Homo sapiens: one gene and its partners. The protein of the gene in region 3 purifies or fractionates together with the protein of the main gene of each other region. This does not show direct contact. Each region holds a gene or a part of one and is shown on either strand. Other genes may lie near its edges. The genes, in order: CIAO2A, MACROH2A1, ZNF428 and PIP4K2A.

The links.
Region 1: the proteins of ZNF428 (region 3) and CIAO2A purify together in Homo sapiens (co-immunoprecipitation; one large-scale study listed by IntAct). This does not show direct contact.
Region 2: the proteins of ZNF428 (region 3) and MACROH2A1 purify together in Homo sapiens (affinity purification with mass spectrometry; one large-scale study listed by BioGRID and IntAct). This does not show direct contact.
Region 4: the proteins of ZNF428 (region 3) and PIP4K2A purify together in Homo sapiens (affinity purification with mass spectrometry; 2 studies listed by BioGRID and IntAct, with this or other methods). This does not show direct contact.

Annotation. Positions count from the first base shown.
Region 1 is NC_000015.10:64,072,672-64,079,727, forward strand, and holds part of CIAO2A (cytosolic iron-sulfur assembly component 2A), read right to left. Parts: intron 2,867-7,056; coding exon 2,821-2,866; exon of another isoform or gene 358-2,820; coding exon 260-357; 3' UTR 1-259. UniProt on the Homo sapiens protein: Component of the cytosolic iron-sulfur protein assembly (CIA) complex, a multiprotein complex that mediates the incorporation of iron-sulfur cluster into extramitochondrial Fe/S proteins.
Region 2 is NC_000005.10:135,389,988-135,398,156, forward strand, and holds part of MACROH2A1 (core histone macro-H2A.1), read right to left. Parts: intron 1-8,169. UniProt on the Homo sapiens protein: Variant histone H2A which replaces conventional H2A in a subset of nucleosomes where it represses transcription. Nucleosomes wrap and compact DNA into chromatin, limiting DNA accessibility to the cellular machineries which require DNA as a template.
Region 3 is NC_000019.10:43,615,114-43,623,011, reverse strand, and holds the start of ZNF428 (zinc finger protein 428), read left to right. Parts: upstream 1-3,382; 5' UTR 3,383-3,454; exon of another isoform or gene 3,455-3,951; intron 3,952-4,013; exon of another isoform or gene 4,014-4,179; intron 4,180-7,898.
Region 4 is NC_000010.11:22,537,589-22,545,757, forward strand, and holds part of PIP4K2A (phosphatidylinositol 5-phosphate 4-kinase type-2 alpha), read right to left. Parts: intron 4,460-8,169; coding exon 4,216-4,459; intron 2,487-4,215; coding exon 2,383-2,486; intron 1-2,382. UniProt on the Homo sapiens protein: Catalyzes the phosphorylation of phosphatidylinositol 5-phosphate (PtdIns5P) on the fourth hydroxyl of the myo-inositol ring, to form phosphatidylinositol 4,5-bisphosphate (PtdIns(4,5)P2). Has both ATP- and GTP-dependent kinase activities.

The DNA of each region.
Region 1 (7,056 bases), on a different chromosome or scaffold from region 3:
AAAAATAGCAACTCATCTTGCACATAATAACTAGAAAATATTATTCTGTCTGATCATTTAAGTGTTACAAATCCTGAGAATGTTATACATTGAACAAATTAGGTACTACCTTATAATTAAATCTCGCTTGGAAAGAATCCTTTAAAAAATACTCTGAGGTACAAATCACCTATGTATTAAACATGAGTCTCTGACATTATACAAAGAGTTTAAACAAATATATCAAACAATTACAGGCCAGTGGCTCTTAAAACAGCTATCAGTCAGGTTCAAGGACACACTGTTCCACAATTTCCCGTAAGTTGGGGTTTTCCATTGCAGCTGCCACTCGCTCTTTGTCATTTATCTGCTTATTGACTGAAAAATACACAGACAAAAGTTAGCAGAAGAACTGTGTCAATATACAGCACCAGACAGTATTTTTATTAGCCTGCTGAAACAAAAACTTTAACTCCTTGAGAACTTAAACCTGTTTTTGGCTAATTACTCATAATGTAATTTCCCATCTAGAAGGCAGACTTAAGAGAAAAATATCTACTAGAATTCTACTACTTAACCACATCTATTTTTTTCTTTCCAGTCTTTGTCCATACACATATTTTTATACAGTTACATTCAGAGTAAATATAATTTTGAAAATTGCTATTTTTTCCCCCATAAGCCTATATTTTAAACTACAGGGTTATTTAACATGGTAAAAGTCTTAAGTGTTCTAAAGTAATTATGAAGACTATGCTACAATGAATACCTTTAAACATATAGCCTTCTTTTTGGAAATATTCTCAAAAATGGGATTATTTTTAAGAGTATGAATATTTTTATGGTGTGATTCATATCATTGATTTACTTCCTAAAATTACTCACCAGTTTATATTGTCAACACCAATACATGAGCTATCAGTTTGGCAACAATACCTGGTATTATTATCATTGTTATTATTATTCTTTGAGACAGGGTCCTGCTCTGTCATCCAGGCTGGAGTGCAGTGGTGCAATCATAGCTCACTGTAACCTCCAACTCCTGGGCTCAAGAGATCCTCCTACCTCAGCCTCCCACAGGCATGAACCACCACACCTGGCTAATTTTCAAATATTTTCGTAGAGACAGGGTCTCACCATGTTGCCCAGGCTAGTCTTGAAATCCTGGCCTCAAACTCCTTCCCTCAAGGCATTCTCTCGCCTTGGCCTCCCAAAGTGCTAGGGTTACAGGTGTGAACCACCATGCCCGGGCAATAGCTGGTATTATTTAATAAAAACAAATACACATATATACATACATAAAACAGGAGATGGAAAACGGCTCAATATTATTGTCATAATTTGCATTTCCTTGACTAATAGGAAAATAGAACATTTTCCATGTGCATATATTAGTTCTTCTTGCATGAATTTCCTGTTCATGTCTCTATTAATCTACTAGATCTTTTTTTAAAATTAGTTTGAATGGATCTTCATATAATAAAGGTATTGGCCCATTATGTTTTCTGTAATTAGCTAACAGCATTCTTAATAGAAGAGTTCAAAAGAGAGACGACTATATTCTTAATGTGGATTGAGTTTTCTGGGCTGCCGCTGAAATGTCTCATGTAGAAGACACACAAACATACACATATTCCTGCGAAAATACTTTCAATTTGGTTTCTTCCTACTACAATGTAGGCTCCACAAAGGCAGGAATGTATCTCAAAGGCTGAACTGTACCCACACATAGAAGGCACTTAATAAATACTTACTAAATGAAAAACAAGACTCATAAGACTTAATACTATTGCTGCTGTAAAATCCTATCATTCAAGGAATTTCAAAACGATAACCTGAGTGGATTTAGGGTACCTAAACTCTTATTTTTCTAAATTACAGGTAGAAGCCCTCAGCTCGTGGGGTTTAAAGAAATTCAGCCCACAAAGAGTATAATAATCTACATGTCTAGAACTATAAATAGGGCATGGTTTTTAACAGTTTTCATGACAGTACCTAAAAAGTTTCCTGGATAGGCTGTTCCTCTGGAAGCAGCAGGCTTCCCTCTCTATAGCTCTCTTTTATGTAGGAGATTTTGTGTGTCTCTCTCCAGCCCTGTGTATGCCTTTCTGAGTCTTCTTGGTATCTATCTCACTGTTGCTCTTCCTCTATTAGCTCTTTCTTCCATTCCTCTGCTATTTTTTCCCACCTTCTCAATTTACTTAGTGATGAAACTTAAGTACAACATGCCTTTTAAATGTATTTCTCATTATTTGCACTCTATCATTTGTAGATTAAAAACATTAAAATTATGTTTTTAATGTAACACAGGGATCATACAGAACATTTTGTTTTTTGCTTTTCCCAAACCCCACTTCTGCTATTTTTAAGTAGCTACTGATTGATTTCTCTCTGTAGGCCAGAGGTCCTCTATATAAAAAAGGTTCCCCACTCCCATTCTAATATACTAACCCAGAGAGACAGCACCTACCCCAAGATTCACTAAAGCTCTACTTGCTAGACCTTCAATTTCAAGTACACAGCTCTCTATCCTGTCACCAAAGAAAAGAAGCCTACTTAGAGCTCATAAGTCAAGGTCCCCAGCACTGGATATTCTTTACAGATGTGTAGCCACTGGCCTAAACCAGTCAACATCCGTGGGCTCTAGTGCACTCGGAGTCCACTGCAAAAATTACTTCTTTGAAATGCCTAGGTTTCCTCACCTAGGAAGGAAGAGCCAATAACCAATTGTGCACTTTTTTGAAAGTAACCCAGTAGATTCTTGGCTGGCAGAAGAATCCAGTATCCAAGATAAAATACTATCTGAAGTTGTTTTTCAATTATGTTTCAACATTCACTTACTGTCTTCTTCTGTTGAGTGGGTTCCTTCAGAAATGTAGATTTCCAACTGGAAAGTGGGAAAAAAAGTAAAAGAAAAAACATTAATGCATTCTAAGATAAGAGAGTGAAGTGGAATGTACAGTAAATTCAAACATCTAGGGATGAGTGCCCAAATCCTGTTTCTTTTTTTTTTTTTTTGAGATGGAGTCTCACCCTGTTGCCCAGGCTGGAGTGCAGTGGCATGATCTCGGCTCACTGCAACCTCCGCCTCCTGGGTTCAAGCAATTCTCCTACCTCAGCCTCCCAATAGCTGGAATTACAGGCAGACGCCACCACACCCAGCTAAGTTTTGTATTATTATTTTTTTTTTTTAGTAGAGATGGGGTTTCGCCATGTTGGCCAGACTGGTCTCAAACTCCTGACCTCAGGTGATCCGCCTCGGCTTCCCAAAGTGTTGGGATTACAGGCGTGAGCCACTGCGCCCAGCGCCCCCCAAATCCTGTTTCTAACATCAGAGACATAGGGACAAATCCCCCACATCCTTCTCTAAAAAAAAAAAGGACTGAAATGAGTAGGATTTTTTATTTTGTTCACCTGGAAAAGGCCTGCAGGTGGTATTTCCATTAATTTTTTTATGAATACACAAAAATATCATTTTACACAAATGAGATCTCATATGTGTGGTTTTACTTAAGAATATCTCTTTTCTGCACTCTACTTCTTCCCAACTCGGTATCTAAACTTCCTCCTGCCCTGCTACTGACTCAGGAAATCTACAATAACAATCTAGTGTGGTTTCTTCCATATTCTTCTCTTTACCCACATAATCTTACACAGATTTTACACACACACACACCCACATATCAGGGTTGGAAGTTTCTTCACATTGCTTGTTTTACAAAAATGGGATCACAATATAGTTTTCAGCATCCTTCTTTTCTCATTCATTATTATCATGCTAAATTTATTCTCAAGTATAATACTGGTTAAGCTATCCCTCCTGGCCCTGCTGCACCTATAGACATGAGCTACCCTCCAAGACCCAGAGCTTTTAAGACAACCTACAAAATTATTGCAAATCCTGTGGTAAAGAGAGTATGCTGTAATAAAGACGTCTACTTTCCAGAGAACACTGGAACATATGAACTAATTTTTATTTACTTATTTACTACGGAGATAAACATTTCTCATGAGTGAGAAAAATCATAACTTATTATAGTTAAAAGGGACCTTAAAGGTCATCTAGTCCAATCTTTTTTTTTTTTTTTTTTTTGAGACAGGTCTTACTCTGTCGCCTAGGCTGGAGTGCAGTGGCGCGATCATGTCTCACTACAGCCTCGACTTCCTGGGCTCAGGTGATCCTCCCACCTCAGCTCCCACACTCCCACCCCTCTCCTCCCTCGTCTCTATTTTTTTGTAGAGACCGCGTATCGCCATATTGCCCAAGCTGGTCTTGAATTCCTGAGGTTAAGTGATCCGCCCATCTAGGCCTCCCAAAGTACAGAGATTATAGGCGTGAGCCACTGCACCTGGCCCCAATTTTTTTTAAAAAACAAAACAAGCCGGGCGTGGTGGCTCATGCCTGTAATCCCAGCAATTTGGGAGGCCGAGGCAGGCGGATCACGAGGTCAGGAGATCGAGACCATCCTGGCTAACACAGTAAAACCCCAACTCTACTAAAAATACAAAAAATTAGCCGGGCGTGTATTACCAGCTACTCAGGAGGCTGAGGCAGGAGAATCCCTTGAACCCGGGAGGTGGAGGTTACAGTGAGCTGAGACTGCGCCACTGCACTCCAGCCTGGGTGACAGAGCGAGACTCCGTCTCAACAAAACAAAACAAAACAAAACAAAACACCTTTCTCCTAGTAGCAAAACACTCTTATTCTAGACCTCAAAGCAACAGGTATAGAATCACTCTATACTGACTTACTTCAGTTTAAAATTACACAGGACTCATTATTCTAAAAGTGATAAAGGGGAAAAGGCAGCATTTATGCAGCTATTCCTATATGAACTATACTTCAGGGTAACCAATTGATGAGGGGAGCTGTTACCAATAATGGGACAAACTGAATTTATAGGCCTCTGATGTGATGCAATGAGAACACATTTATTCAGTATTCTTGCCAAAAATGCACAAACTGAATCTAACCAGGAAACATCAGAAAACTCAATTTGAGGGACAATCTATAAAATATCTGGTTTACATTCTTCAAAAATATCAAGATCATGAAATAAAGGCTAAGGAACTACTCTAAATTAAATGAGACTAAAGAGACATGGCAACTAATGCAATGTATGATGGGGGAGAGGAGCAGAGCCAGGAGGAGGGACCGCCATGAAGGATGTTACCCATTGGAATACGTGCTGTAGATGAGATGACAGTACTGTATCAATGTCCTGGTTTAGAAATTTATACTGTGGTAATGTAAGAGAATGTCCTTGTTTTCAGGAAATACATCCTATAGTATTTAGAGTAAGGGGGCATTACAAATGCACTCAAACATTTCCAGAAAATATGTGTATGTGTGTGTACATATATAGAGAGAAATTAATGATAAACCAAATGTGGCAAAATGTTAACAATTAGTGAATCTGAATCTGGGTGAAGGATATATGGAATTTCTTTGTACTATTCTTCACTATTTTATTTCTTTTCTTTCATTATTTTCATTTCAAATAAAAAGTTAAACATTGTAATTAAAACAGTTAAAAATGAAAAATAAAATTTACAGGGCATCATAAACCACTAGTATAATAATTTATTAATTTACTCAATTTAAGACGTATTTATTGAGCTCCAAATATGTATAAGATCATAGCAGGAACACAGAGATGTATCATATATGAATCTTGACTTCAAGAAGCTGACAGCTAGCTGGTCAGGCATGGTGGCTCATGCCTGTGATCCCAGCACTTTGGGAGGCTAAGGCGGGTGTATCACCTGAAGTCAGGAGTTCAAGACCAAACTGGCCAACATGGCAAAACCCTGTCTCTACTAAAAATACAAAAATTTAGCTGGGTGTGGTGGTATGCGCCTGTAATCCCAGCTATTTGGGAGGCTGAGGCAGGATAATCGCTTGAACCCAGGAGTCAGAGGCTGCACTGGGCCGAGATCGCACCACTGCCCTCCAGCCTGGGCGACAGAGCGAGATTCCATCGCAAACAAAAAAAAAAAAAAAAGAAAAGAGAGAGAAGTTGACAGTCCAGGAGGGAAGATGAAAAACAAACAGAACACAAGTTAGAAAAGGACACTCTCTACATCAGAAGACAAAGAAAGAGCCACGGGGCTGGGTGCAGTGGCTCACGCCTGTAATCCGAAACACTTTGGGAAACCAAGGCGGGAGGACTGCTTGAGCCCAGGAGTTCACGAACAGCTTGGGCAACATAGTGAGACTCTGTCACTACAAAAAATAAAATTAGCTGGGCATGGTGGCATATACCTGTGGTTCCAGCTACTTGGGAGGGTAAGGAGGGAGGCTCACTTGAGCCTGGGAGATCAAAGGTTCAGTGAGCTGTAATCATACCACTATATTCCAGCTTGGGCAACAGGGTGAGACCCTGTCTTTAAAAAAAACAAAAAGAAAGAGCCACGGCAATTCAAAAAAAGAAATAGCTTTAGTTACAGAAATCAGGACTAGTAGTATGGAAAGGTGAATACAAAAAATAAAAAAAAAAATTTAAAAGATAAATAAAAATTCATCTTAAAAAGAAGAAAGAAATCAGGACTGATATCATGGAAAATAAAATAGTATTTCACTGGGCCTTAAAACGTGGGTAGGATTTGGCCAGGCCCAGTGGTTCATGCCTATAATCCCAACACTTTGAGAGGCCAAGGCAAGATGATCACTTGAGCCCAGGAGTTTGAGACTAGCTTGGGCAACAAAGAGAGACCTCATCTCTACCAAAAATTAAGAAAAAATTAGCCAGGCATGGCAGTGCACGCCTGTAGTCCTAGCTACTTGGGAGGCTGAGCCTCGGAGATAGAGGCTGCAGTAAGCAGTGATCACACCACTGCACTCCAGCCTGGGAGACAGAGCAAGACCCTGTCTCAACAGCAAACAAAAAAGATGTGTAGGATTTGAACATATGAGATGGGAGGAAGGGAACTCCAAGTAGACAGGGTACTCTGTGTAAAGGCTAGGTAGCAGCCAGGTAGAGAAGGCATAATTGCCCAGCAATTACAAGAGGCAGTAAGAGACAAGGCCGAATCATTCACGAGCGATAACCAATTACTATGAATTAACTGTGATAT
Region 2 (8,169 bases), on a different chromosome or scaffold from region 3:
TGATAGAACCAGGACTCTTGGCCTGCCATGTAATGCCCTAGAAATCTAGGCCTGGCACACATGTCCAGCTTTGCCTTGGGCCACCTGTGGTCTAAACTAGCAAACAGGGAGCCACACAAGGTTCCCCCCAAATACCCTTCCACTTCTTTTCTCCCTGCCTGGGCAGTAGCTGTTCCCTTTGGCTGGGACCTCCATTATCTCTCACACTTGCCTCTGCCTTCTGCCAGCCCTCCCAAATGTTGAGATCTGGCTGTTTCATCCTCAGGGCCCCATGTGCTGCACACCACAGCATTGATGCACGTGTGCCCATTCTCCCATCAGACTGCAGGTGGGTGGAGGGGTGCCCCTAACTGTATTCCTACTGTAGCACCATCCAAGGTCTCGAATGTTTACTTGGAGCATCCTGTTCATTTATGCATTCACTTCAGGTATTATGCTGGGCAGATGTGGTCCCTGTGGAACTGGTGGGGAAAAAGACAATAAATAACCCCCTAGTCATTTAAAAGATAAACGTAATGCATGCTTCAAAGGGCCAGTGCAGGGTGCTGGGAGAGGGGATATGAGGGGCCTTGGCCTGTTCTGGGGCCCCCTAAAGTCTTCCCTATGAACATGTTTGCTCACTGAACCAACTGGGCAGGTCTCCCATGTACTGATAAACTGACGTCACACTCCATGGTGTTTGGGGCCTTCCAGCACCAGCAGTCAATGCTGTGACCACTGGAGGCCACAGGGATAGGAGTCCCTGTTACTCTGATGCTCAACCTATACTAGGGACATTGTCAGGACATGCCACGGTCCACACTTAACACCTCTCTAATCCCAGGTGCATCTCAAATCATCTGGGATGAGCCACAGAGATGGCTGTGAGGACAGAAAACAGAATTCTGGGCACTCTGGGGCTACTGTGTAGACAGGCCCAACAGAGGTAAGATGGCAGAGGCCCTGGCTCTGGAGTGATGTTAGAAGAGTAAAGGCCTCTGTCATGAGCGCCCTGTCAAGGAGCACCCAGTCTTAACTGCTCACTGAGGGCTAGAGAGACCCAGAAGGGTCTGGGTTTTTCCAAAACAATTAGTTGGATCCCTTCCTTGCTGCAATGAACTCCATTTTAAAACATTCCTTGCAAAAAGGTGCCTGTGCTCACTCTGAGCAGGAAATGATATGTGTATATGTATGTGTGCCTGTGTTTTCAGGCAAGGCTGTCATTGGGTTTCCTAGCAGTCTTTTGCTTTACTACAAATGTGTTTCACAGACCAACAACCTGATGCCTTTGGACTGAGCTTTTAAATCGGAATGTCTCCCCCTTTCAGCAGGGGAGGCCTGTGGTCAGTGATGATTAACAGCAGCTCAGCCCTTTTCCTACTAGAGCACAGACTTCAGCTTTGTTTCCCAGCTGACCTGCTGGGCATGTCTGGGGCTGCCTATGTGGGAACTGGACAGTGGTCTCCTCCAGAAAGGATCCGTTAGCACTCAGAGACCTGGCAGGTCCTAGACACGCTGACTCCTTAAAAGTGGTGCTCCTTGTCTTTCCCTCCTCTGACTCTAGCTGAGTCTTTACATCAACATGCCAGTGACTCCCAGGTCTCTATGCCAGTGCAACACCTGGCCGCTGAGCCTCAGAGCTCTGTTCTGACTGCTGATGGCAAGGGCCCACTTACAAGTCCCATGGGTGCCTTGAACTCCTCTGGGTCTCTCAGCCTCATCAGTGGCAATGTCATGCACCAAACTAGCCAAACAGCAGTGAACCTGGCCCAGACTTCTCTGTCCACCCCACAGCACCCAAGCATTAGCCAAGCTCTGCTGAACCGCCTGCAGAACCTCTCAGGCCTCTTCTCATCACCCTCCCTGCGTTGGTTCAGCCTCTTTACTTCTGACCTATTCTCAACCGCACCAGTCTTCATCCATGGACACCAGAAGCAGCTCTGCCTACTCTGATGATTCCCTGTCAGCCTGAGCTTCTGAGCTAGCCACAAACAGCATACTTCAGCTACTTTTGGTGGCACTGCTTCCTGTCACCCCAGCCCTGGCTCACATGCCTCAGGCCACCCCTGACTTCTTGAGCCTGTCACACTGTGTTAAGGATGTCTCTGAACACGCAGTTCTCCTGCCTGGAATGCCCTTTGTCCTCTTGTCAACTTGCTGAACTGACACTCACAGCCTCCCTCTGCCATGGAGGCTTTGTGGACATGACCACAGCCTGGAATTGCTCACTGCTCCATGTTCCCATAGTATATATATCCCAGCACATGCCTCTCCAACTTGACTGAACTGCAAGCCATTCGATGTGAAGCACTGTAGTCAACTCATCCCAAGAAAGGTCTGAAATATCACAGCTCCTCCAGTGCCACCCTGCTGGCAGAAGAACATCTTCACTTCTCATTCTGAGTCAGGCTCCTGTCCAATAAAGCGGCCTCAAGTCTGTCTCCCCACCAATGGGGTTGTCTTGCAGAGATTCTGTACTTTATCCCTCCCCATGTTCTTCCTGCACTTCTAACTATAGTTCCCCAAGCTGCAGCCACAGCTATGAAAGAATTCTGACTAAGCCATGAAGCCTTATGACATCCAGCAATGTGTGGTGGTTTTCAAAACACCCTTTTGAAAACCAACTCATAGTTGTGCAGTCTCCAGATAAACCCATGAATGTGCCAGGTCCATCCTGCTCTTCAGAGGTTTATGCAGGTGTGGGTAGCTCCAGTCAGGCACCCATGACAAGGGGGAGAGTGACTGTGAGGCCAATGGCAATTAAGCATTATAATTAAAAACTAGAAGTCCAAAGCCAGACTGACCTGATTATAACCATGGCTCTGCCGCTTACTGGCTGTGCATTTTTGAGCAAGTGATTTAACCCCTCTGAACCTATTTTCTTATCTTTCAAGTGGAGATGATGCTAGTAAGGGCCTCAAAGAGTTGGTGGCAGAAGTGAATCAAAGCATCCATGTAAGGGCCTGATACTCACTCACTGGGCAAGTTCTCAGTAGTTAACAAAAACAATAATGTGAATAAGATGAAAAAAGGCCATCTTCTTGCAGAACAGATCTTGGACATTTGCGCTGAAGACATTGCTAGCTGCTGTAACAGATAAGTCTCTACAACTTATTTCTCACTCCCGAAAAATCCAAAATGGGTTTCCATGATTGGCTGGTGTTTCTTGTCCACATAGTGATTCATGGATCCAGATGCCTCCCATCTTGTTACTCTCACATCTTCAATACATGATTCCCAGGGTTGCCATGGAAAGAAAAAGACCATGGATAATAACCTATGAGGGTTTTAAGGGGCCAGGCCTGCAAATGGGGCACATCACTTCTGACCATGATCCATCAACTAGAACTTAGTCACATGCCCACAACTAATTGCAAGAGAGGTTGGGAAATGTACTCTGGCTATTTACTCAGAAGAAAAGAGGAAACAGCCAGTCTCTGTCACATGATAAACCAATCTGAACGCTGACCCTAACCCCAGAATGAGTTACCACCCAAAACCTGTTGGGCCCTGTTTGACCCATGTTCTGCATCCAGCCTTGTTTGAGAAACAGACAGCCCTACATCATAGACAAAGCAGCTTCCTAAGCACTCATCACCTCTGCAGGGCAGTGAAGCTGGTCACAGGAGAACAGCTATACTATCTGGTCAAACTTGACAAAGATGTGTTCTTCCTTCCTTCAGTAAACCAGGAGGCTTCACTCATGGCTCTGCATGCTTTGAAAACAATGATAGGTCCTCAGGCAACTGTGTCTGTTCATCATTGCACATTAGCTTGACTGCCCTTTTGGCTGTTATTGGCCTAGAAAATGAAGGTTCTGTGATTGATCTTGAAGGGATCTCTGTGGTCTTTATTTCTGCAACTCTTCCAATTATAAATCACAATAAACATTAACTTTGTTTATAAAACCTCAAAGCTTACCCAAAGACAAACTTTTATAGAGGAGCTGGATGGAGAGATGAGTCAGGCTACAGTGAGAAGCAACAGAGTCTGACCACAGGCCCCTCAGCAATCGAGATGCGACTGGAGCAACGCAGTCAGTTCTTTTAGCACAGGACTAATTAGAAGGCTGGCTATGTAGACCCCATGAATAAGGTGGACATGAGAACAACAAGCTGTGTACTACTAGGAGGGGCAGTAGGGGCAAAGAACCAAAGTGCCATGGAGGCCCTGCCACACCCTCCTATCCCTTCCCAGCAGGCATCCTAACAGGCTGCTCCCTGCACTGCAAACCACCTTCATTCCCACTGGCACCTTCAGCACACCCAGCATGCTCAGTCTGAACATCTCTCTAGCCCTTTGTCTGGAGTAATCCTGCCTACTGGTCCCAATACCTTCCCTGGCAATGATCCATCAATGTGCTCCCTCTTCTGCATTCCTGCCATGGCCATGCCTTCTGTCAGTCACAGTCTAGTTTGGGGCAGCTGCATGTCCAGACTCCAACCTTGTGCACAGGCCCTGTTGACCTCCAACACATCTCTCTATTTGCAACAACCAGAGATCCACCGGGATGAATTTCTCCCTCCCAGTTCCCTCAATGGATGTGGCAGCTGCAGACCCAGGGCCCAGCTAAAAGTGCCTCACAATCTCCCTCAGGCTGCCCCTATTCTTTAATATACTCAATTATTTTTCTTAGTCTTATATACAGTACTCTGCAAATGCAGTTTCCAGCCCTTCCTTCCATCATGATTGCCAGTCACTCTAGATCCCATTTACATATAAGTTCTGAAACCAGCTATCCCATTCTTAGCACTCAGTGCATGGTATCATCATTGCCTATTTACCTGTCTGTCTTGATGAAACGAACCAATTTGCTCTACTCACCACTGTATCTCCAAGCACCCACCACCCTGCCTGGCACCCGGTAGACATGCACATGCCAGCTACAAGGTAGCTGATTAGTTGGCACTGACAGTGGATAGGGAGAAAGGAGAGGGCAGCATTTCCAAAGCCCACAGGACTGGGAGCTATGGCTAGTGGGACACCAATCAGAGACCTTCTCTTGGACATTCATGTACATACACCTGGCAAAATCCCTATAGGAGCCCAGACACTCAAAATTCAGGGAGCTTGTAGAGCTACCTTGGGGATTCTCAGGAAAGGAACACTCCAATTGCCCTGATAGCTGGGCATAAGGCACACTGAGGCCTTATGACTCTGTGACAGTTCTATGGTTCCAGTGACCTCTCCTCCTGCCTCTGGCTCAGTACCATAGACTGCAGGAAAATACTTAACCTTCCTCACATCTATAAGAGATTGACTCCTGTTTAAGCTACAGCACAGAAACCCCTTAAACAATCAGGGCACTCATGAAACCGCTGGAATAGTCAATCATGAAGTATTTTATTATCTAAGCAATGAATACATGCCTATTGATCCCATGCAATATTGATTAGAACTGCTGGGGAGTTGCTAGTCAAAGAGCCCTATCTCCAGCCCCTGAGGATAGAGGAGTCTGAGCTATCAGTGCTCAAATAACTGCTGATGAGGAAGAACCACGCCATCCATTCTGGCAGCTGGATAAATGCCCGCATATCCACATGCATTTGTCACCTTCCCATCAACTCCAATCACAAAGGCCAACCTGAGAAACTTAATTCTGAAGGACAAGACACTAATCCTGTTTACAGCATTCTCTTCCCTCTTCCGTTTACTCCTATCACACCAAATGATTAACGGTGTCACCCGCTGTCATGTCCCCAGAGGCATGTGGATATACTAGACAACCATTGCTCACAGAGCTGGGGTTCACAAGCTGCACTCTGATTGGCTTGGATCAGAGACCTGTTCTAGTATTCTAGCCAATCAGGAAAAATATCTCTCTCCATTCATAAAACACCATATCAAAAAGTGAGCCAGATGATTAAAGAACCTACAGTCCACTCTCAGTGAACTAGGGGACTGCAAACAGAAGAGACAGACCAACTGAGATAGTAAATAAATCATAAACCATGCATTTTGTTCCAGCAGATGTGTCTTACTCCTGTTATGTTTTCAGTGGCAGGAAGAAACAAAACACAAACACAAATGTCATTTACCACAAGCAAGAAACAGTTTTGGGGAAGCTAGTCTGGGATTGAAATTTCACCTCTGCAAACCCATTCGGTGATGCGCTTCCCGAGATGCACTGAAGGAACTGTGCAGCTTGCTACATTTTAACAGCAAGTTACTGCCTGCCTGCTTTACAAAAAAACTTTTCTACATACTCCTCTCTCTTTTAAAGGTTGTGCCAAACTCTTAAGATAACCAGTCTCACGGAAGGCTATTTAGAGAAAAGTTAAAGTGTGGGCTTCACAGGACAGGACTCTGATAAGGCTTAGCATGTAGAATCCACTCATTATTTGCCGAGTAGACGTGTTCCCAATAAGAATAAAAAGAACACCTGATCCTGTCTCTCTCCTGCTCAAAACCCTTCAGTTGCTCTTAGGATAAAGTGTGGGTCTGACCAGAATCCTTTGTGATTTGTCCTGTTTGTCCCTCCCTGAAGCCTCACCTGACTCCGCACCAGGACTCAGCCATCCCGAGCCTCTGGCAGTTCCCCACATGACCTCTGTTCTTTTCTTCTAAGATGCACACATGGGGTTCCCCAGGCCTCAAACACTTGTCCCCATCTGCCCTCCTTTGCCCAGCCATCTCCTGCTTGACCTTTCCAAGCCAGATAAGGGCTCACTCCTGGCTAGGTTACTGTACCTGCTGGGGGGCTACGTGGGGCCTTTTGCACTGATTTTACAACAGCTACTTGCCTGCCTTCTCCCAAAGTCAGCTCCCCCAAGGTAGGGGCTAGGCATTTCTTAATCACGGCTGTGTCCCCAGTGCCTGAACAGGAGCTGATTCTCAGGAAATCTTTATGGAAAGACTCTGAGACACTGACCTGACAGGTTTGGTCCAAGCAAACAAGCTATACAACTCTTTGGAATGAAGAGTTGACTCACTCAGGCTCACTTGTAAGCACTGAGGCAGGGCCCAAAAGACCTCTAAACCTACAGAATATGGGAAGGACCCACAGAGATCTGGGCCCCAATCACTCCTGCCCCTTCCCAGCCCATGTTCTAGGAATGGGGCTCTGAAAAGGCTGTCACAAATCCTTGGGGACACTCAAATAAAACCAGAGGCTGTTGCAGTTCTGATGAACAACACATATAGAGTCTTGTTGGGTTCTTCGGCTTGAGGTTTTCAGTTTATGCTTTTATTTAAATAAATCTCCTTTAGGTGACTTGGGGCCGCATTAGCTCTGAAGGCAGGTCCCAGAACACATGCCCTCTGAGCTTCTCAGTGGGGAAGGAATGCGAGGCGCTCCTCAAGTTCGCCTCTCTCAGGGACCAGAAGAAACATCAGATGGAGATGTGTCACTCCCTGACACTGGCCCATTTGGTAAAAACTAAACCAGTGGCATGGTTGTATACTAGAATGTCACATGTGAAGTTCCAGACAATTCTTAAAGTTTAATAAAATGTGAGTTAAATTATGCCTCCTTCTAAAGGCCTGCCTCAAACAATTTTCATTTAGACAACCCTCTTAATGCCTTATCTAGGGATCAGCATTAACAATGGTGACAGATCGAAGCCAAAGAACAGACTGGAAAGATTTCTCTCTCCTTGTAAAACTAGAAGGGGGAAGAATTTGAAGTCTTTCAAGAGTTTTGTTGTGTTTAAGAAAAAATAAGTTTGAAAACATACTCATCCTCATCAGAGAGTCTCTTGTGCAAGACTGAGATGCTGCTGCCCAACTCTAGTTAAATGTGTACAATGGGTATTAATTCCAGTTGCAGGCAAGAGGTGTCCATTTCAGAGTTAACACCTCTGACAACAGGCTAGTAGCCTAAAGGTGGCCTGCAGTAGGTGAATTCCACCTAATTTACAACTCGAGTCTCCCATTCAAACCTAAGACTGTTAAAAAATGCCCGACTCCCTGGAGCAGGGAGCTTTGGAACAAAACACTTCCCTTACCCCCTACTTTAACGGTAAAACCTCAAACCACAAAGGTGGAAGAAAAGAGGGAAGCTAGCAGGAGTGCCCCCTCTAATTGTCTATTCTTATGTGCTGTTTACTGGGTCATTAAAATCTTACAAGGCCTTTATAGTCATTGTAATTGTTGAATTCAAGGTTTGTCCCAGTTGTTTGTACAGAAGTCTCTCACTTTGAAACTCAGAAACATTTCCCCTAACATCTTGTCTAAAAGAACCTTTCAAGC
Region 3 (7,898 bases):
CCAGGTCTTGTGGGGAGGGGGTCAGTTTCTGGGAAGGGTGGGGGGGGCAGGGAAGGGGAACACAGATTTCTTTGGGGGTCCTAGACCCCATGCCAGCCATTGTAAGAGTTCCACAGAGCTCTGGGCACTTCTTTGCAAAGCCATGTTTGCACGGTGGGGGGATGGGTGGGGGGAGGGCGTGGAAATAGGGATTCTGTGTCTTTGTGTCATAACTTTGATGGGGGCAGTGAGGGAGACAGCCCCAACCCTTTTCTCCAATCCCCCTTCCCCAGGTTCCTGGGCTCCCCTTCTCTCTACCTTCTCCCCCAACGTCTGTCCCATCCATATTTGTCTCTCTGTCCACCCACTCCTGGGGGGGCCTTCCCCATCTCTCCTCCAGGCCCCCCGGGGAGGGGGAAAGGAGTTTGGGGAGGATTCGTGGTCTTCATGGTTTTATATATAATATATTAAAAAATCAAAAGTCTGTATGAAAATATCAGATTGCACCCCCCTCTCCCCATTCCTGGCTTTTGCCCCCTTTTTCTTGTTAAAAAACAAAAAACAAAAAACAAAAAACCACACACACATTTTGTACGGGGTGGGGAGGGGAATGGGGAGGGGGTTTGGCAATCTCACTAACCACCATTAAACTGAGGAGAGAACAAGTGTTTGGGGTGGCTGTGTGTCTGTCCTGCTGTCAAGGGCTGTACCATTGGGAGGGGAACTAAGGGAGAGGGGAGGGAGGAGTGTGATGGTTGCTGGTGGACAGTATAGGCCAGGAGAAGGTCCTGACCTCACTGAGGGTACCTCGACCTCCCCAGAAACCTGGGTTTGGCCATTTCTTCAGCCAAATAGTCACAGTCTTGTCTTTTTGATAGCGACTGAGCTACCCCATTCCATGGCCCGGACCCTTACCCTGGCTTCCCCCTACCCCAGACATTAGTCTCCAAGGGAACTTTGAATTAAAGTTAAACTCTCAAAACCTTTGCCTAGCTCCCCATCACCTTTAGACCAAGTCAAAGCTCTTTAGTCTGGCATCCCAGGCCTCTCATTCATTCATGTACATTTTAGATGTATTATTCTAACTTTAAAAAATAACCTCTTACGATGTGCCAGGTGCTGCTCAAAGTTCTAGAGTCCATGGTGAATAAAACAGGCAAATGTTAAGTGTTAAAGACAGCGCTACACTAATCTGAAATCTGATCCTGCTCTAAGCATTGAGAACCCAAAGTGAAAAAGGGCGACTCCATTCTTACCCTCATGAAGCTTTCATGAGGAAAACACTCAAAACAAGGAAGCAAAGAAAGTTCAGATTGTGATAAGAACTATTAATATAAATGCAGAGTATGGTGATGTGGTATGCCATTGTCATTATGGAAAACTTCAAACCCACAGGAGTAGACAGGACAATAACGTCCCATGTACTCTTTTTTTTGAGACCAAGTCTCGCTCTGTCGCCCAGGCTGGAGTGCAGTAGCGCCATCTCGGATCACTGCAAGCTCCGCCTCCCGTGTTCACGCCATTCTCCTGCCTCAGCCTCCCGAGTAGCTGGGACTACAGGCGCCTGCCACCACGCCCGGCTAATTTTTTTTTTTTTTTTTTTGTATTTTTAGTAGAAATGGTCTAGGATGGCCAGGATGGTCTCGATCTTCTGACGTGATCCGCCCGCCTCGGCCTCCCAAAGTGCTGGGATTACAGGCGAGACCCAGAGTCTCGCTGGGTGGCCCAGGCTGGAGTGCAGTGGCTCAATCTCGACTCAATGCAACCTCTGCCTCCAGGGTTCAAGTGATCTTCGTGCCTCAGCCTCCCAAGTAGCAAGGATTACAGGCACCCCCCATAACCCCTGGCTAATTTTTGTAGTTTTAATAGAGGCAGGGTTTCACCATGTTGCCCAGGCTGGTCTCAAGCTCCTGACCTCAGGTGATACACCAGCCTCGGCCTCCCAAAGTGCTGGGATTACGGGCGTGAGCCACCGCGCCCAGCCCCATGTACTCTTCATGCCAGTTACAACCACCACCAACTCATGGCCAATCCCGATTTATCCATAACTCCAGTCAAATGTGTAAGTGCTATTATGGAGAGATCAGGAAAAGCCTCTCAGATTGACATCTGTACCAAGATATGAATGGTGAGCACAAGAGTAGGTATTCAAAGGTCAGAGGGAAAAGCATTTTCAGGCGGAGGGAACGGCAAGAGCAGAGGCCCGAGCTGGTAAAGAGTTTGGGGTAAGGTGGAGCTGGACAGAAATGGAGGGAGGAGGAAGTAGGTGGGGTCAGAAAGATAAGCACGGCCAGACCAGGTGTATAGCCCTGAGGCCATGATAAAGATTTTTGGATTTTTTTTTTTTCCTAATGGGATCCCTTTGGGGGAGTTTTAAGCCAGAATGTGACAAAGTCACTTACAGGAAGACTGGAATGTAGCCATAGTTGAACTCTAACATCGTCTATAGAACCATTTCCCGTCTCCAGTTAGGTTCTAGGCATACTAAGCTGCTCTTGCTTCCTCAATCAAAACATGCGCTTCTATTTTTTTTTTTTTTTTTTTGGCCTCTGGGCCTTGGCGCTTGCAGTTCATTCTGCCAGACCCATTCCCATTCTAGTTGGCTCCTATTCGTACTTGGCTTAAGGATCACCACCTCCTGGAAGTCTTTCTAGAACCAGAGGCCGGGGCAAGCGCCTCTTAGGCTCCCACAGCCCCCTGTGTTCCTCACTCCAGGTCTGACCTTCTGGGTAGTAGTTGTCTAATTAGGTGCGTATCTCCTTCGACTGGGGTGCCGTGAGTACAGGAGTATGGTTCACTGCAGAAACCACAGAATCCGCCAGCATGGGGCCTGACACCTAGGAGATCAATAAACCTTTATCCTGGTTGGGAGGGGTCCTGGCCCTCGTGCCCTCTCTCAGGATGCAAACTGATCCCCTACGAAGACAAGGCTACCCACTTCGCGTCAGTCTGCAGTCCCTGCGCGCATGCGCTTTGCTCAGGTTGCCCCCGCCATATGCTAATCACTGCGCTCTGGAGTAAGGCCCCTCCGGGGAATATGCAAATCACTCCTTCCAGTGCGGGAGGCCTTTCATTGTCCCGCGCTAGGATTATGCAAATAAGCAGGCCTCGGGCCCAGGATCCAGTCCGAACTAGCGCCCTCCACCCCCAGCGCATCCCAGTTTTGTAAGGCGCGTTCCTGCCCCGCACACGCACGCGCGAACCCTTCAGCTTCTTGTTCCTTTGGGCCGCGGGCTGTACCAAGTAAACCCAGGCAGCGAGGGGCAAAGCACGGCGCCCCCCGCGCGGGTCTCGTCGACGGCCCGACGCGCATAGCCCCTCTTCCCACAGCGCTACAGGACTAGTCCGTCTCGCCGCGCAAGCGCCCTAGGCTCTTCACGCCCCCTGCGCGCTGTCCTACCCTACTTGCGACGCAGGCGCAGAGGCTGGGCGTGCAGCCGCCGCCGCAGAGCCGGAGCGGGGGCCGCCGGCGCCGGTGAGTGTCCCGGGCAGGGGTGCGCGAGGCATGCCGGGAAGCGGGCGCTACGGCCCCGCTGCATGATGGGAGCGACGACTCCCGTCACCGGGGAGCCGGCGGTCTGGGGCCGTGGTGACCCGAGGGCTTCTTTTTCTCCCCCTACGCGTTTGTGCCGCCCTGGGGCATCCTGGGAGAACCGAGCGCTCCGCCTTGAAGCGCTGTGGGAGTCGGTCCGCTAGTCGTAGGCCTGGTGCATCCTGGGAAAGAGTGTCCCAGATCCTTGTCGAGACCGGTTCCTTTTATCCCACACCTGCCGCTGACCGTCCTGGAGGCTTGGAGCGCTTCCACACGGGGAGTCTGGGAAGGTGGTCGCTATAGGCCTAAGGCATCCTGGGAAGAACTGCCACAACGAATTGTGGGAACTGGCCGTTATTGTCCCGTAGTGGAAGGTTTTGCCCTGGTCTCTTTGCTCGAGCATTGGAACGGGTGCCTATTGTGTTCACGCGGGGCATCTTGGGAATTGACTGCTATAGGCCCAGGGCATTGTGGGGTCTCCAGCACTGTGTTTGCCTTTCAGTTTGGCTGCCATAGGCGTGGTAGGAGTGGGACTTGTGAACCAAGGGATGGCCCTACCTGACGTCTGGAATACTCTGGAAGGGGCCTTGTGTGACGTGGGCTTGGAAAAGTGTAGGCTGATGGGCATTGTCTCCTGGTAACTTCAGGGAATGTCTTGATTGTCCCAGGTGTGTGGTTGCCGTATAAAATATACAATGTCTAGTTAAATTTGAATTTCAGATAAACAATTATATCCAAAAGATACAACCTTTTAGAAAAGTATGTCCCAAATATCACATGGAACATAGCTATATTAATTCTTTGGGCTAGTTGCAGTGATACCAATACTTTGGGAGGCTAAGGCAGGAGGATCGCTTGAGACCAGGAGTTCAAGACCAGCCTGGGCAATATAGTGAGACCCCCGTCTCTACAAAAAAAAAAAAAAAAAAAAAAAGTAAAAATTAAGCCTGGCATGGTGGCGCATACCTGTAGTCCCAGCTGCTCTCCTAGGGGCTAGTAGGGTACCTTGAGCACAGGAGTTTGAGGTTACAGTGAGCTAACCTCCCAACCTGGTTATGGGGGAGTACATGAGTTAAGGCCTGGAAGCCCCTTTCCTACAGATCACCCTACTGCACTCCAGCCTGGGCAACTGAGCGAGACCCTGTCTCTTAAAAAATATAAATAAGTAGGCTGGGCGCGGTGGCTCACGCCTGTAATCCCAGCACTTTGGGAGGCCGAGGCGGGTGGATCACGAGGTCAGGAGATCGAGATCATCCTGGCTAACACGGTGAAACCCCATCTCTACTAAAAATACAAAAAATAGTCGGGCGTGGTGGCAGGCGCCTGTAGTCCCAGCTACTCGGAAGGCTGAGGCAGGAGAATGGCGTGAACCCAGGAGGCGGAGCTTGCAGTGAGCCGAGATCGTGCCACTGCACTCCAGCCTGGGCGACAGAGCAAGACTCCGTCTCAAAAAAAAAAAAAAAAAAAAAAAAAAAGCCGGGCATGGTGGCACGCGCCTGTAGTCCCAGCTACTTGGGAGGCTGGGGCAGGATAATCGCTTGAACCCAGGAGGCAGAGGTTGCAGTGAGCCGAGATCGCGCTACTGCGCTCCAACCTGGGCGACAGAGTGACACTCCGTCCCAAAAAAGAAAATTAAATAAATAAATAAATAAGGGCCAGGTGTGGTAGCTCATGCCTGTAATCCCAGCACTTTGGGAAGTGGGAGGCCAAGGCAGGAGGATTGTTTGAGCCAGGAATTTGACAGCAGCCTTCGCAACATAGTGAGACACCATCTCCGCAACAAAAACCCAAAAACAAACAAAAAAATTAATTGGATGTCTTCTGTTTTTATTTGCTAAATCTGGCAATCTTATCTTGGTATAAAGTAGAATTCCCAAATTAGATGGGGCCCTGTAGGCAATAGGGTATCATTAGAATTCTCCTCTGCCAATTATGAAATCTGTCTTTAAAAGCCAAGATTTAGGTGCTTTCTTTAGGAAGTTGCCCTGCCAATGATGCCAATGGTCCTTTGCCCCAGCCACCTCCAGGTTTCAATCTGAAGCTTTTCTCTTTAGTCCCCAGCATTAAACTTGACATCCAGACTTTGAAGGGACCATGTATTTTCCACCATTGTATCCCCAGTGCATGGGCCTTGGCATGTAAGAGATATAGCTGAGGCTGCATCAACTGGCCCTGCTTGGTTCTCTACTGTCAGGGAGTACAGTGGAAGACAGTAGTGGTGTGTGTGTGTGGTGGGGTTGGTGGGGGGCGGGGGCGGTCCGTTGGTGAAGAGGGAGAGAGAGAAGTCACAGAAGGCTTCCTGGCAGAGGCAGTATTTCAGCGGGCAAGAAGTATAGAGGTTCTTATGTTTGTGGTGGGCTTTGAAGGGTGAAAAGGAGTTCTCCAGGCCAAAAAGGGGGAAGGAGGGCTGGGCGTGGTGGCTCTTGCCTGTAATCCCAGCACTCTGGGAGGCCAAGGTAAATGGATCACCTGAGGTCAGGAGTTTGAGACCAGCCTGGCTGACATAATGAAACCCTGTCTCTACTAAAAATACCAAAAAATTAGCCGGGCATGGTGGTGGTGGCTGCCTGTAATCCCAGCTACTAGGGAGGCTGATGCAGGGTAGAGGTTGCAGTGAGCTGAGATCGCGCTACTGTACTCCAGCCTGGGCAACAAAGTGAGACTCCATCTCAAAAAAAAAAAAAAAAAGGAGGAGGAGGACATTCTTGACAGCAACAGTGGGTGTACTAAGACCCACAGATGTGAAAAGGCCTTGTGTGCACAGGGAGAGATGAGAGGTCTGGAACATCTGGAGTTTATAGAGGGGCAGGGGTGGGAGTAGTAATGGCCACTCTTGATGGAATACCAGCCACACACCAGCAATTTCTATCAGTGAGCCTACTGAATCTTCAGAAAAACCTTTTGAGCTGAGAAATCATTTTATGAAAGGTCTGGCTTCCAATCCTAGTTCATCCACTTACCAGATGGTGACCTTGGGCTACTCACTTATCACCTCTGTGTCTGTTTCCTCATCTGTACAAAGGAGATAATTCCCAGTCTAGTTATGGGGAGTACGTGAGTTAAGGCCTGGAAGCCCCTTTCTTCCAGAGAAGGAAACAGGCTAGAGAAGTTAAGTTCTTTGCTTGGTGCTACACAGCTAGAGTGTGGCAAACCTAGACACTATCTTGCCAATTGATACAGAACTAAGGCTGATAATCACAAACTAGTATAGCCATACCAATTGTTTAAATATTAAAATACTTCCAGATGGGTTGGTGTGTCACTGCTACACAAGTACTCCCTGTCCCTAACTGCCACTTTGGACCCCCCTTGTGGTATTATATATATAAATATATTGGTTTTCATCCACAGTTCCTGGCTGGTAACTCCTACAGCCTTTGTTACAGTCTCTTGTTATAATGTTGTGTACCTTAGGCCTGGGGCAGGTCTGAAGAAACAGAATCTCTCTGACCTCCTCCTGCCCTCCATTTCCTGCCCCAGGGCAAGACTCTAATCTTCCCCACCTTCTTGATTGTTGGTCTTAAGACACTTTTCAGAGAAGTCCATGCCCAATGCTGCTGTCTTAAAGCCTCCGTAAAAACCCAAGAGGACTGGGTTTGGAGAGCTTCCGCATAGCTAACCACCTGAGGGTTCCTGTAGGGTAGCACCCCAGGGAGGGCGTGAAGCTCCCTGCCCCTTCCCTTATACCTTGCCCTACACATCTCTTCATCTTTGTTCTTTGCAATATCCTCTATAATAAACCAGTAAATCTAAGTAAGCATTTCCTTGAGTTCTGTGAGCAGCTCCAGCAAAAATTTTTTTTTTGTAAGATGGGTCATCCAGGCTTGAGTGCAGTGGCAAGGTCACGGCTCACTGCAGCCTTGACCTTCCAGGCTCAATTTATCCTCCTGCCTCAGCCTCTCAGGTAGCTGGGACTATAAGCACATGCCACCACACCGGCTAACTTTTGTAATTTTTTTTTTTTTTTTAGAGACAAGTTTGCCATGTTGCCTAGGCTGGTGTCAAACTCCTGAGCTCAGGTGATCTGCCCACCTCGGCCTCCCAAAGTGCTGGGATTACAGGCATGGGTCACTGCGCCCGGCCTTATTTTTATTTTTTTAAAAAAGTCGGGTGTGGTGGCTCACGCCTGTAATCCCAGCACTTTGGAGGGCTGAAGTGGGCAGATTGCTTGAGCTCTGGGCAACATGGTGAAACCCTGTCTCTTCCAAAAATACAAAAATTAGCTGGGTGTGGGGACAGCGTTGGAATGGAATCGGAGGGGACACCTAGCTGTTGTCTGCTGTGTAGTGTGTGGGGAAAAAGCCCCACACATTTGGTCACAGAATTCTGTGTTGATGATTGTTGTGATAGTGTGAGAGTAGAGGAAAAACACAGTTTGAGGGTTTTT
Region 4 (8,169 bases), on a different chromosome or scaffold from region 3:
TCAAAGAGTGGAATTGTTCAGAAGTCACGGAAACAATACTTATGTTATACTTTTCAAGAAGGCAGACTGGAGCCACCTTGAGAATGACATCAACATTTGGCGAAAGGGAAACCTTAATGACGATGACTTAAAACCGCATGATTTCTTCAGGACCCCTTCGTTTCTGGACAGAGGCCCCCAGCTCAGTGCTCAAACATGAGGGGCAACAGCAGCAGCCACAGGTTCTGGGACAGCTGCCCCCAGCCCATTCCCTGCACCGTAACCAGGTGAGGCACAACACTGCTGGCTCCATCTTGCCCACGGGGGAAGGAGCTGACTTCCCTCTGCAGCAGCACACAGGGGTGCCACTGTTCCCCTTTCTGAGCCCTGCAGAGAGCAAGCAAGCCTGGCCCCCTGCAGAAGCACGGTGAGGGATTTTTCCATGATGAGATGCAGGGTGCAGGCCAGCACACTCAAGGGAGTCACTCACTGGCCAGTTTCCTGAGCTGCAAAGGGCAAGCACGGAGTTTTGCTAAGTGAGCATGTGCTGTTTTTAGACACCCATGTTCACCGGGGAACTTGTAATATTTCCAGGCCTCGGCTGCATGGAGGAGCCCAGGCTTGAATGCAGAGAGAATGGTCCCCCACAGCAGCTTAACACAGCGTTCCTTTGCTGACAGTAATGTTTTCTTCTTGCAAACTACCTGTGATTTTATGCCGTGTGGCACACTATGGAGGCGAACTTGTGGCTTATGGGGAGATGAACATGGAGCCATATTGGCTAGGATAGGAGAGATGAACATGGAGCCATATTGGCTAGGATACACTCCAATTTCACAGGATGTATAATATGGGAACAGACATTTACAAAGCATTTGTCCAGACAACTCTTGTATCTCTGGCAAAACCCCATCAGCAAGGCAGTAGGATTTCTGTATGAGGTGAAAAAACAGGAGCTCCAAAAGTGTCCCCTTGAGGTCATACAAGTGGGAAGGGTCAAACGAGGATTCCTCGCCAGTTCTCTCTTTGCCACACTCCATGGTTTTCAACCAGAGGTGAGCATCAGAATGACCATGGAGTCTTCTGAAGACCCCTCCCTCACCCTCCTGAACTGGCCTCAGAAATGACGGAATGGGGGTGGTGCACCTGGTGCGGATGTTTGTTTAAAAAGAGTACTCAAAAATTTCTGTTGGGGGGAAGCCACCAGGCACACTTGCTTACTGACGTGCTCGGGGGCGGTGAGGTCCCAGTCTGTGCTCTGCACACAGCAGGAATACCATAGCTATCGACAATGTGACTGAAATATTTCTTTGGCAAATAGAATACTGTGTTTGTTAGGCTGATTTCTATTTTAAAATAGAAAAGAAGAGGTTTCAAGTGAGTTTTTGGTTCTGGTGAATCTTCATTAGTTCTACACAGTCTGTGGGAAGCACCTCTTCTTCCAGGGCCAACAAACCAGGGAATACATTCATCTGTGTGGGGTGGGCTCTATGGCTTTCAGGACCTCTGCAAAACAAAGATGGCACCCTGCAATACAAGCCTGAAACTTGGCGAGCTGTAAAGTTCAGCCAGGCAGGAGGTGTTTGCAGGCAGGGCAAGGGGATGAGCATGAACACAGAGCCAGGAGGGGGCTGGGTCCGGGGGAGGAATCTCATCTCTGCCACTTGCTACTATGAGGCCCTGGCAAGTTACTCCTGAAGCTATTTTCCTCAGTTTCTCCAACTGACAAAAGCAGGTACACTACTATCTCTTTCATAGGCTTCTCATGGGGGATAAAATAGCTTAACATATGGCTAGAGCAGTGAAAACTCCCATCAAGCAACATTAACGGTGAGTAATATTATGCAACTTTGATTTTGCACTCAAGAGATTTCTGTAGTAGAAAAAATACAACTCACTGTGAGAAAAGAAATATTAATCCTGTATACTTGGGAAGTGTCTTAAGCAGACAATCATGCTTCAGTTTTGAATATTTCATATTAGAACACTTCATTATCTTCTTTTGCACTTTTATCTCTGGAACATTTTTCAAACAAAAAAGAATTTGTGTAACATCCTAGTGATGCGCATGCCTGTTAGTGTCCGCCATGTGTAAAAAGAAGAGATGTTCATGTTTAAGTGACTTCGCTGGAAGCCACAGGGAGCTGTGGTAAGAGCAGCAGTGAGCAGTAAGCGTTTGTGGGTTCTGTATCTTACGCTCAGAACATGACTTGCCCCCAGGGAACAAGCGTCACTAAAGGGCTTTGAATGGCTCAGTAGAAAGCAGCTCAGTGGCAGAAAGGAGTGATCCCTGAGTTACAGGTCACACAGAGGAGCCAGGAGAGAGAGAGAGAGAGAGAGAGAGGGAGAGAGAGAGAGAGAGAGGGAGAGAAAGAGAGAAGGAAACAAAATGGAGATACTCACGCCATGTTTAACAGTTTTTGCAGCATGGGCAGCTTTCTTTTTTGCATCATAATGAGTAAGGATGTCAATAATTGCCATGAAGTACACCTCCTTCCTAGGCGAGTCTGCAGAGACAGGAGAGCAATGACTGTGGGACATGTGACAACACCAGTGCCAGCATTGCTGCTGAGGGAGGGAGGGAGGGAGAAGTGAGCCTGGAGGGAGGGGATTCAATGGAACGCGGATGGAAGGAGTCCAGAGACAAACTCTACACCACCCCTGCGGATCCTGACTAAACACACAGCTTGCCTCTCTGACCCAGTCCCCCTGCAATTTAAAAAGAAACAACCCTAACAACTAAAAACATCATCACACCAGGGTATCAACAGTGGAGATCCAACGGTGGAACGGAGTCTTTTTTTTTTTTTAATTTGCATTTTCTTTAATAATTGTGTATTGCTTTGGTGTGAAGAAATATGCTATTTAAAAATACCCTATAAAACAGAACTAATTATGTACACTAATCCTTTACATCAAATGGTAGAACTGTTCATAATTCTCACTGGATACAGTATCAGAACTGGATAAAGGCATACATCCACTCCAATGTCTATTTTCTTTTTTTGAGACAGAGTTTTGTTCTTGTTGCCCAGGCTGGAGTGCAATGGTGCGATCTTGGCTCACAGCAACCTCCACCTCCCGAGTTCAAGTGACTCCTGCCTCAGCCTGCCGAGTAGCCGGGATTACAGGCATGCATCACTATGCCCAGCTAATTTCATATTTTTAGTAGAGATGGGGTTTCTCCATGTAGGTCAGGCTGGTCTCAAACTCATGACCTCAGGTGATCTGCCTGCCGCGGCCTCCCAAAGTGCTGGGATTACAGGCATGAACCACTGCGCCCGGCCCGTGTCTGTTTTCTATCCATTTCCAAAAATATGAACAGTAAGAAAAGTACATTTGACTATCTAATTTTCTGTGTTGAAGAAAACATTTTGGTGAGCAAAACAGAACAAAACAGAACTCAGATCCTCAGCTGATATGCCATTTGAGATTAAAAAACAACTGATGAGCCACAGTTTTTATTATTCAAAAACCAAGAAGCTGTTTTTATCCTATCACAAAAATATTTTGGTATTGTCACGGATAAGTTGCTAAGGTAGGATGTAATATTCAAATAACTGGTGCACCCAATCACCTGGATACGGTGGATTAAGATTTATCTGACTCTAGGGAAGAGGGCCATAGGCCCTTCCATGGGGGAGGACAGCAGAGCCAGACTCAGCAGCAAATCAGATTCCCACCCCACCCACAGGGCCCATCTTCACACACCCTTCACACCCCTGAGAGGGAGAGGGCTGTTGGTAATGACAAGAGGACAAGCTAAGGGTCACAGAGGATCACATGCATGTGCCTAGCTTAGACTCATGATGCTTTTGACTTAGATAAAAAAGATAACTAGGCAAAAACGTATTAATATTTTAAAGCATTTCTGATGTTATTTGTGAACATGTATGTGTGCATATGTACATGCATGTTGTGTTGTGTGTGCACGTACGTTGTATGCCAGTGTGTATGTGCATATGTACAGGTGTGTTGTACATGTATAGTATAGTTCGTGGTTTTGCTGTATTCCCTCAACATCACAGAATTCAAAGGTCCGATCGCCTTATGTTTCAGCACTGAGATCACGGTTAGCTTTAACATACTCTTGTCCCCAAATCCATTTCTTTGGAGTTTGGAGGATGAGTGCTGCCGGGCAGCACCCTCATAACTGGGGTAGTGCTTACTGGTAGATAACAAGGCCAAAGTCAAACCACTTCACATGCAAAAAGGGTCCACAGTAATCAAACTTACTTTCATGGCACTTAATTCCATAGACGTCGATGTTCGGATCGAACTCCCCGGGAGCCAGGGGTGGTGAGCTGTTCAGTGTATTCCCGGGGCTATCTGGGGGGGTTCCCACCGGGTGGGTGCCATCGCTCTCGCCCTCCTCCTCCCCATCGTTCTCCTCACACTCCACTTCCTCCTGTTCGGCTCTCTCCACATCATGAATTCCCACCAGCAGACTGTAGTCCATGAGCTTCAGCTGGGCCAGAAACTGGGGACAGAGGCAACAGGGTGAGTCAGCCACACCTTAAACATAAAAGCCAACATTTAAAGGAGACAAGCTCGGGTGACACCCAGAGGGAAGGCTGTGGGGTGGGGCAGCAGAGGCGCCGGGTGCCTCCTTCACGATGCTCTTACACTCCTGGGCTGTTTCTCTATCTAAAATGTAGCCTCACACTTCAGGCTGGCTCAGAGCTCAGGCTGTTTACCCTGGAATGCCACACTGGATGCGGAGAGGTGTGTATCTATCACAGGGTGGCTGGATTTCACCAGATAGCAAGGAGCATGACCAGTAAGAGATGCGGAGAGAGACTGGGAGAGAGAGCAAGTTCCTCCCAATGATTAAGACTGGCTAATGGGGAAACCCAGGCATCTCCCAAGTAGCTTCCAGCGGAGTCTCTGGTGGTAGTTCAGGAAAGCACCCTGGAATTCAGCATGCTCTGTGGAGGCGATTGTTACGCTGTTGTAAATAAGTAAAAGTAAAGGCACTGTGTCCACATCTGGTGAGTAATGCAGTCCTGTCCAGGTCAACAAGGTGCTTTCCACGTGTGCTTTCCACGAAGCACCACACATCCAGGATTCCTGTCCTCCCTCTCCTCCTCCAGCCGTGGCTAGAACATAATGTGGGGGCAAGACCCAGCTCTGTGTGTTTGGCTACTCCTGTCTGCCCAGTTCTTTGACTTTTCAGATCACGATTTCTCTTTGTTTCCCTTTTCTTATTTGAGACCTTCAGCACAACGTTCCAATGTTGCCATAAGATGTGGATGGTTGTGCTGAGTGCAAACAGTGGCAGCCCATCTGCGGGCTGGACCCAACTGGCTCCCTGACCCCGTGGCTGGCTGGCTCTGCACAGGATCCTGTTCCACTCCGACCTTGGGCTCAGGGTCCAGGAAGGTTCACGGTCCTGGCTCTGGAAGGACTCAGTGCCACCTCGCTGGGGAATGCAGAGTGGCTGAGCAGCCTCTGGGCTATGCTGATAGAATTTAGGAAGCAGATGTCCTCATGCAAAGGGCAAACAGATAAAATCACAGGTCTTGAAGTTCTGGCTAAAAATGAAATCAATTTGCTAAGCCCCGCAGAGTCATTTCTCCTCAGCCTGCTGGGAAGGAGTTCTGTCTCGAAACTGAATGAGAAGCCCCGATTCCTTACAGACGAGGAGAGGACCCCTGGGCACAGGGCTATCCCACTCTCCAGCTGGTTCCTGGTGCCTGCAATTCTCCATCAGCCAGCACCCCGCTCAGCCCAGCAAACTGGCCAGAGCTCCCACTTCGCTGCCTTCCCAACAGGAATCCCCCAGGGCCAGCTATATCTTCCCCAATTGTTTTGAGCTCAAAAAAGAGAAATCACACAAATCTTACACTCAAATATTTAAGCAAAGTGGGAGAAACCTGTTTGTTTAAAAATAGAGGCAAACCCCTCGTGGAAACAGCATGGGGCTCCTGCGTTCAGCTTTCTGGGTCCCAGAGAAGAGGGGAAGCCACTGCTCATCCCCCCTGGTCTTTCCCCAAACTCCCCCATTACAGTAAACATGAGAACTGACTTTCCACTTGCACCTCTCTCTGCCAGATTCCTTTCCAGCAGTCAGAGACTGCGCATCCTCCCCTAGAATCTCGGCAGCTGCCAGGCTGTGAGGTGCACCTGGCCGAGATCACCTGGCTGGGATCATGTTTGTGGGGGCGGCTGCGGGGAGAAATCTACAGTGGTGGAAGGCTCACTTGAGTCCTCCACCCGCACGGTGAAGCCAGCCAGGGAGCTGGGTCTCGGGTACCAGCTCCGCTATACATGGGCCTGTGGATGTGGAAGAGAACTGGGCACTCCGGGGTATAGGGACAGGTGACAAGATCCAAGGCAGGGGGCAGGCTCTCCGTGTGAGACAGCAGCCAGGCTCAGCAGCTGGACGAGAGTGCAAGGATTCAGATCCAAGGAGGGGTGAATTCAGGGCCTGTTCTGAGCCTGTACTCTCTGCTCTCTATCAGCTACCTCTGGAGGCTGCCTTAAAGCAGCTTTCCCCTCTCCTTTTCTTCGCAACCCTAGGAGGAAGGTAACGAGTTAAAATCAGCTGGCATCGGAGGCCCTCCACACATGACTCTGCGCTGTGGGTCTCCGGAGGGTTAGGTGGCCAGCAGCAGCACACATGGCACTGCTGTGATCATGGAACCTGCTTTCCCGTCAGAATGACCTGTGGGCCTGGGGTTTCAGAAGCCTATTTGAAAAATACTGCATTGTAAGTACCCAGTTGTCTTCTCCAATGCTTGAGGGGTATGGTGGGGGTGGGGGTGCTTATGGTGGGCCCACTTCTCCCTGCCCTGTTGTTCCAAGGCCTCTGGGCTGCTGGAGGACTGGGTCAGGGTCTCCTTGGCCACCTCTGCTGCCCCTCCCAAGCCTAGCACGGTGCCTGGCTCTGCTCCCTAGATCTACGGCTTCCCTGGCCTCTCTCTCTACACCTGGAAGCCTCTCTGGAGCCAGGCCAGGCCCTGCTCGGCTTGAGAGGTGACAGGGAAAAGGCCCCCCTTCTGCCCACACCTGCTCCCTCTGGGTGCTTGGAAGGTCCCTGTGAAGTGGTAAAGGCTGAGTGGTGCCTCAACCACCCCTCCAGTCCTCTGCAAAGGGCAGAAGTTTTCAAAATGTGAACCTGATCCCATCCTGTTCTGCTTAACACATTTCCATAGTGCCGCGTTTCTCACAGGGCACAAACAAAACTCACATGGCCCAGGAGGCCTGGAGAGCTTGGCCCCATCCACTTCTGGGGCCCACTTGAGCTCTGCTCTGCCCACTTCCTGGGCTTCTCTGGGGGCAGGTACTTCCTCCTGTGCCTTCAGGTCTCAGCTGCGGGGCACTGCACAGGGCAGCACAGCCCCAGAGTCTGGGTGTTTAGGGCACCGCACACTCCTCCCCAGTGACACGGGGCCTCGCTGCACATTCATTTTGTTGGAGTATTTGAGCGACTTCTCTCTTTCCCAAGCAAGGCAGCCCCAAACGGGGCTCTAAGGTTTTGGCTTTCACTGCATTCCCGAATCCCGGCAGGCAGAGGGCTCGGGAAAGTATTCGGCACTTGTTGGACAAGTGAATGGGATGCTTGTTACTTCTTCCCTATCCGTCCCAACTCTCCCTAATTCTCCCCAACCTGCTTCCAGCAGGAAGTAACTACCAAAGCCAAATACAAACAACAAAGCAACAACAGAAAACTTTTGTCTGAGACTGCATGAGGCAACAGCTCTGCAAAGGAAGCGCAAGGTGACCATTTAAGACGATTACCTTAACAGGAAGGTCTACTGGTTGACCTTCAAGTATGTTTTAGTTACAGAAGTCAGGGCTGTCTGTGATTAACTTGCCAAAGGGCAGAGAGGGAAGGGGACAACTGGGACTGGCCAGCCGCACTCACCAGGGTGAGCCTCCAGGGCCCAGCCTCCCCTGGCACCCCATCTGGGTTCCTCGCCACACCGGGCAGCCCAGAGTAATTTTCCTGGGCCTCAGGCCTGTGGTCAGACCGCTTACTGTCGTCTTCCAGTGAGGAAGAAATAAAGGTGCAGTCAACTCCTAGCACAACCCAAAAACCATCAGCATGATGCAAAATGCATCTCTAGGTAAGAAGCTGTTCTGAGGCACCCAAGAAGACTGAGAAAATTGCAGTCACAATGGGCATTGCACATGTTTTCTTTTTGTTTAAGAGATGGGATCTTGCTCTGTTGCCCAGGCTGGAGT